Linked DNA regions of Homo sapiens. The protein of the gene in region 2 purifies or fractionates together with the protein of the main gene of each other region. This does not show direct contact. Each region holds a gene or a part of one and is shown on either strand. Other genes may lie near its edges. The genes, in order: MILR1 and CSN3.

Region 1 (3,828 bases), on a different chromosome or scaffold from region 2:
CTCCATGCAAGCAATTGTACTACTGGGTTTTTAATGAGGCCTAAAACATAGTGTTGTCTCCAACCCAGTAAGGGTTGAAACTATGAGCCATAAACACAAATTCATTAATCACTGATTCACTCATCAAAAAAAAATTTTTTTTTTGAGATGGATCTTGCTCTGTCACTCAGGCTGGAGTGCAGTGGCACCATCTCGGCTCACTGCAAGCTCTGCCTCCCGGGTTCACACAATTCTCCTGCCTCAGCCTCCCGAGTAGGTGGGACTACAGGCGCCTGCCACCACGCCTGGCTAATTTTTTTTTTTTTGTATTTTTAGTAGAGACGGGGTTTCACCATGTTAGCCAGGATGGTCTCAATCTCCTGACCTCGTGATCTGCCCACCTCGGCCTCCCAAAGTGCTCACTCATCAAATGTTTAAAGAGAACACAGGGCCGGCTGCAGTGGCTCACGCCTGTAATCCCAGCACTTTGGGAGGTTGAGTGGGGGCAGATCACTTGAGGTCAGTAGTTCAAGACCAGTCTGGCCAACATGGTGAAACCCTGTCTGTACTAAAAATACAAAAATTAGCTAGGCATGGTGGTGGGCACCTGTAATCCCCAGCTACTTGGGAGGCTGAGGCAGGAGAATTGCTTGAACCTGGGAGGTAGAGGTTGCAATGAGCTGAGATCGTGGCACTGCACTCCAGGTTGGGTGACAGAGTGAGACTCCGTCTCAAAACAGAAAAGAAAGTAAATAAAAAAAAAATTGTTTTTAAGTGTGGACTCTTGAAGTCAGTCCCAACTCGGCCATTTACTAGCTGTGTGACCTTGGGCAAATTTCTCAATCTCTCTGAAGCACAGTTGGTTCATCTGTGGAATGGGCATGATACTATCCACACTACAAGACTGTCGTGAAGGTCAAATGAGATCATGTGACTGGCACGCCTGGCACATGATAGATACTTAACAGCTTTTCTTCCTTTCCTATAATACTGTCTTATTAATGCATTATATATATATATAATAAAATGTATAGCTGGGTTTTTCTGTTAGGTCATAGAATAGGCTATGATCTAACAGAGTGTAGCAGACCCATTTCCTGTTGAGAATTTCTCTTGAATCTAGTTAGCAGGGTTACTTCCTGCTCTTTGGAGGAAGTGAAAGATAATTGTGCAGCTGAGTTCTATAAATAAAAGTACAGTTGGAGAAAACGATATTTTTGGGGCTGGGCATGGTGGCTCACACCTGAAATCCCGGCACTTTGGGAGGCTGAGGTGGGAAAATCACTTGAAGCCAAGAGTTTGAGACCAGCCCGGGCAACATAGTGAGACTCTGTCTCTACAAAACATTTAAAAATTAGCCAGCAGTGTGCACCTGTAGTCCCAGCTACAGAGGCTGAGGCAGGAGGATCACTTGAGCCTGGGAGTTTGAGGTTACAGTGAGCTATAATTGTGCCACTTCACTCCAGCATGGTTGAAAGAGCAAAACCCTGTCTCTGAATAAATAAATACATTGAAAAGAAAATGATATTTTTGGATTAAAAAAACCCACTGTAAATTTACAAGGATTGAGAATAAAAGCACTTCTTGGGCCGGGTGTGGTGGCTCCTGCCTGTAACCACAGCACTTTGGGAATTCAAGGTGGGAGGATCACTTGAGGCCAGGAGTTCAAGACCAACCTGGCCAACATGGTAAGGCCCTATGTCTATAAAAAATAAACATAAAAAAGCACTTCTCAGCTTCATACTTAGAACTGGATCATTGACAAAATTATATTCATTATTAACAATAAATAGATTGTGAATTCTAGGAAGGGCAAGCTTGCACCCCAATTCCTCAAAGCAGAGAGATGCCCTCCACTCTCTGGCTTTCTCAGCACTCAGCTGAGAACCTCGGCTAACAACACACTGCACGGGGTTGGCCACATGCCCATTGGCCTTTCCCAGTGGGCCGTGAGCTTCTTGACTTCTCAGGAAGGGGGTCGTTCATCTTGGTTCCACAGCCTGGAGTGGAGTAAGGGTTCCACTCATATTTGTGGTCTGAGTGAGCACACCCAGTCTGTTTATCCTTTTCATGTTCACTTTCATTCTTCCAGACCCGGTGACTTCCCCAGTGCTGAACATTATGGTCATTCAAACAGAAACAGACCGACATATAACATTACATTGCCTCTCAGTCAATGGCTCGCTGCCCATCAATTACACTTTCTTTGAAAACCATGTTGCCATATCACCAGCTATTTCCAAGTATGACAGGGAGCCTGCTGAATTTAACTTAACCAAGAAGAATCCTGGAGAAGAGGAAGAGTATAGGTGTGAAGCTAAAAACAGATTGCCTAACTATGCAACATACAGTCACCCTGTCACCATGCCCTCAACAGGTAAGAGCAACCTGAGTTCTTTCAGCCAGGTCTGAACTCACTTCCAGAAACTGCAGCTGCTCCTCTGCCCACCCATTTCCCACCATGGCCACCTGACCTTCCAGGTCCTTCTGAAGGTGCATTTGTCAAGGTAGAAGGATAGAAGGAAAACTAGGTCGTGTGCAGTGGCTCACACCTGTAATCCCAGCACTTTGGAAGGTTGTGGCTGGCAGATCACTTGAAGGGTCTCTTTGGTAGAGTCCATGCAAACTCTCATGGGGTTGCTTTCTGCCATAAAGGAACCACAGAAAGGCCTAGAAACTGGAGCAGGAGGGGGACTTGTGGCAAAACTTTCTGCCCTGCCTTTCCAATTTGCATCTGTCTTAGAACTGCCAGGTCTTTTAGTTTTCTTTGTTTTTTCATCATTTGTATGTCTGCCTTTCTTTCTTTTCCTTCCTTCCTTCCTTCCTTCTTGTATGCCTGCCTTTCTTTCCCTTCCTTCCTTCCTTCCCTCCTTCCTTCCTTCCTTCTTTCCTTCCTTCCTTCCTTCTTTCTTTTCTTTTCTTTTTTTCAGAGTGTCACTCTGTTGCCCAGGCTGGAGTGCAGTGGTGTGATCTCAGCTCATTGCAACCTTTGCCTCCCAGGTTCTAGAGATTCTTGTGCCTCAGCCTCCTGAGTAGCTGGGACTACAGGCACCCGCCACCACGCTTGGCTAATTTTTGTATTTTCAGTAGAGACGGGTTTTCACCATGTTGGCCAGACTGGTCTCGAACTCCTGGCCCCAAGCGATCTGCCCACCTCGGCCTCCCAAAATGCTGGGATAACAGCTGTGAGCCACTGTGCCTGGCCATCTTGTACTGATTTCTAATACCATGCCCTCCTGCTTGGCTGTTTATTGCTCCACTGCTAATGATGATGGGTCCAGACTCCTGCACCACCCTTGGCTCAGGGCAAGAGAGGCCTCTGGCCAAGCCCTGTGTTTAGTGGGCTCTGGTCTGGTACCTCCAGGCTATGCACCTTCCCCTAGGCTGAGGGGTTCAGGGAGCCGTGGGGATGCAGCCACCTGAACCCTATACTCCCACTTTTCTGCTCCACACTCTAGGTACCTGGACCAAAATCCCCTGCCCAATCAGATCAGAAGCCATTTCCAGGGCCTGTACCAGTCTCTCCCCCAGCTCATCCTCCCGAGGGTGGCCCACAGTAAGGGTATGAGCATCCCTGAACCTGAGCCAAGGGAGCTGTTTATGGGGGGTGTGGATGGTGTTTGCACATGTGGGCTGGGGCGTCCACGTGCATGCAAGGCCCCTTAGGGTGCAGGTCAGAGCCCAGGTCGGGAGCGGGGCAGCCCGGGACTTCAGTGGGTTCTGTCCATGCTGCCACGTCCTGATGCCAAACTCTGGAAAGTCTGAGAATTCCAGATTCAAACCTGACCTTCCAGGTCCTTCTGAAGGTGCATTTGTCAAGGTAGGAGGATAGAAGGAAAACTAGGTCGT
Region 2 (3,496 bases):
TATTTGAATCATTAACTTTTGTTATATTCTTCCCCATTATGTCAATTGACTGACCCCTTTCCAGGGATCAATGGTTATAAACAGCTTGAAGGCTTGCAGGCATTATCTTGAATTATATGCAATGTTTTAAGGCTACTGGACTTAGAAAAAGGTTCTGTTTTTTTCTTTTAATTTTTTGACTTGTTTTTATTGTTGTTTTGGCTATTGCCTCTTTTTATTTTCTTGTTCATCTGGGTATTCTAGGCACTGACAAAGGAGGCAAGCATAAATAATGGTATATGTCCTCCTCCTAGATTGTAAAATTTTGAGGAACACTAGTCCTCGTTCTGTGAATCTCTGTAATATTTATTTATTATTAAGTTTAGAGTTGCTTTTAAGTTAACATCTATTAATTAATTCTATTACCTGCATGTTGTGCTTGTGTATAACATGTCCATTAATTCTATTAGGTCAATTCTTGGAGTCAAAATTACCTTTTAAAACTTTGAGTTCTACAACTCAATACTTTGTGGTCACCTGAACATTTGGAACTTAGGTTGTCTCTTTGAGTAATAGGGCTTAAAGTTTAAATCATGAAATGATCTACAAATCCCTGCTGCATAGCAACCTCTTCCTGAGCTACCTGAGCCGGATTCGTCTTTCAAACATTCCTTCCCATTTTCACAAAGGCTTCAGGCCTCAGGGACATGAACAAATATACAGAAAAAAAAAAATTTATTGATTTTACCATTCAATCTTATGAGTAGTCAAATTTATACAAATTAAAACATCAATGTGATACCATGTTATATGTACTATTTTATCCCTTCCCCCAAAATAAAAATAGTTAGATAATATTTTACTAGCACTTATGCACTAAACTGCATAAACACATAGCCTATTGGTGACATTATAATTTGACACAACTTTTCTATACCACAATTTCATAATTTCTATCAAAGAATCAAATCTCATTTGTGAAAAATCATTTTAAGGTATTAACGAAAATTATTAAAAAGGCCACTGGTATACAGATGTTAATCATCACTCTGTTTATAATTAAAATTTTATCTTAATAGATAACGATAAGAAATAAACATTTCATGACATAATCATTGATCACTTAGTTATCAACTATAAAAATGTAACTATGAAACCTATGATATAAATAAAAAAAAGAGACACCACATTTCCTATAAAAATGCAGGATACTTTTTAGACAAGCATATACCAGGAATACATAACATAGGTTGATATCGCATTAAGGTATCTAGATTGTCAGAATTTTTTAAAGTATACTTTCTACAATATTCATATTACTTCTTTTTTTTTTTTTTTTTTGAGACAGAGTCTCGCTTGGTCGCCCAGGTTGGAGTGCAGTGGCACAATCTTGGCTTACTGCAACCTCTGCTTCCCAGGTTTAAGCGATTTTCCTGCCTCAGCCTCCCAAGTAGCTGGGACTACAAGTGCCCGCCACCATGCCCAGCTAATTTTTGTATTTTTAGTAGAGGCAGGGTTTCACCATGTTGGCCAGGCTGGTCTTGAACCCCTGACCTCAGATGATCCACCCACCTCTGCCTCCCAAAGTGCTGGGATTACAGGGTGAGACATGTGCCCGGCCTCATATTACTTCTTTACATTTTAAACTAATGATTTAATATATTTAAAGAAAAGCAAGTCTTTGTCTCAAAGCAAGGAAACTTTATTACCTTCTCAATTTTCTGATTTTCTATACTCACACCTTCCAAAAGGTTTCTAGAGTCATTTTATACCCAAGGAATACATGTGTAATGTCCTAAAACAGAACTGTCAATTTAAAAATATTTAATATTATACCTCCTTTCAAAAGTTTCTAAAAGCTTTGGAGTTTTTAGTTTTATAAATATGTGTCCATAAAAATTGTTTTCTCACTCCTGATTCTCTAAATATGTCACAATCCAAAACTAAGAAAAGCACTATAAAAACAAATGAAAGATGGTATTAAAAACACTATTATTTATATGTTAAGTTTATGCAAGAGGCAATATTTTAAATCTTCTAAGTAAACCTTATGAATCATCTTAGTATGAGAGCAGAGAAAGGAAAAAAGGCTCAATGCTCCTCTAATTTTTAACAATCTAACAATGTATATTTAATAAAAACTAAATAGAAATTATTCATATTTTTCATTTAAGCATATTTGTTGGCATGGGAGTCAGATGACTAGATTTTTCCCACAGTGACTTTTTCATTCTAGGTGGTGATGTTTAAAGACAATATAAACATGCAGTTTATTATTACTAATCAGTTAGACTACTGTTGCTTCTTAAGTAGTCCATAGGCCTCATAGATCACTCATGAAAAATGTTTTAAAAAATAAAAAGAAAACATATTTTGTCTTTAACACAAAAGATTTTTTTAACTGATTTAAGTACTTTTTTTTTCTTTTTTAACTTATTTCTCATTATTTCTTCTTCTGGAACTCCCCAGGCTGTGGAGGTTCAAAACCAGAAACAACCAGCAGTAAGTCTATTTTAATTACTTCTGTTACAGGCATGAACTACAAAATATATTCTGCAAAGGTCAATTGTATTATAGATGCCTTCTGTCTAAAACCTAAATATTTCATTTCCATAAAACAATCTAATAATATTTGCAAGAAAATAATTTCAGCAACAGGTGATATGAATCAACATTGATGTTCATCTGAAAGTTTTATTTTCTTATATAACCCAAATCATGTATCTTTGGTTTTCATGTATATTTAGCAATATGAGAAAACTCTTTCAACATTTCATATTGGAAAAAAATGAAAACATAAGTAAAGCTTAATATTTCCCCTTTCCACTTTTTAAGACAAGGGAAGATCCTTTTCTGACCCATCTTTGAATACTTCTCATACATCTATATTTACTTCCCCTTTCGTTTCCCAAATATGTTTGAATACATTTAAATGTGTCTCGTTTTAGGAGAAATGTTTGCTTTGTAGTATAATTTTGTCAATTTATTTCTATTCATATGGAAAGGTCTACTGACAAATTTTTAAACAGAGGCACATAGATATAGACAATTCTTTATCTAATCTTTTGTGAAGAAAATTAAACCAAAAAAAATCCAAAATCTAAATCCAGGAATCTCTCCACATCACATTATGTTACTATTCTGCTATAGTTTAGGAAAAAATAAATGTGCTCTTGGGCTAATTTTTAAATGAATAAAATTTGAGACCAATTACAAATATGTGGTGAGAATACATACGTGTGTGTGCGCCATTCTGTGTGTGTCTGCATGTTGTGCTTGTGTATAACATGTCAAAGTTCTCAATGAGATTTTTCTCTGTGTTGTACCTACAATAGCTAACATATAAGATCACTTTCCATATATGCCAATCTCTGGGCAATATGGTTTACATTATGAATAAACTCATCTAATTTCTTGAAACAAATATTATATTAATATTATCAAAATAATATTTATAATATTGAAAATCATAAAGTGGAAAGGCAATGTACAAATCAACATCTTATAAAATAATATT

The links.
Region 1: the proteins of CSN3 (region 2) and MILR1 purify together in Homo sapiens (co-immunoprecipitation; one large-scale study listed by IntAct). This does not show direct contact.

Annotation. Positions count from the first base shown.
Region 1 is NC_000017.11:64,455,329-64,459,156, forward strand, and holds part of MILR1 (allergin-1 isoform Allergin-1L precursor), read left to right. Parts: intron 1-2,071; coding exon 2,072-2,356; intron 2,357-3,828. UniProt on the Homo sapiens protein: Immunoglobulin-like receptor which plays an inhibitory role in degranulation of mast cells. Negatively regulates IgE-mediated mast cell activation and suppresses the type I immediate hypersensitivity reaction.
Region 2 is NC_000004.12:70,245,370-70,248,865, forward strand, and holds part of CSN3 (kappa-casein precursor), read left to right. Parts: intron 1-2,448; coding exon 2,449-2,481; intron 2,482-3,496. UniProt on the Homo sapiens protein: Kappa-casein stabilizes micelle formation, preventing casein precipitation in milk.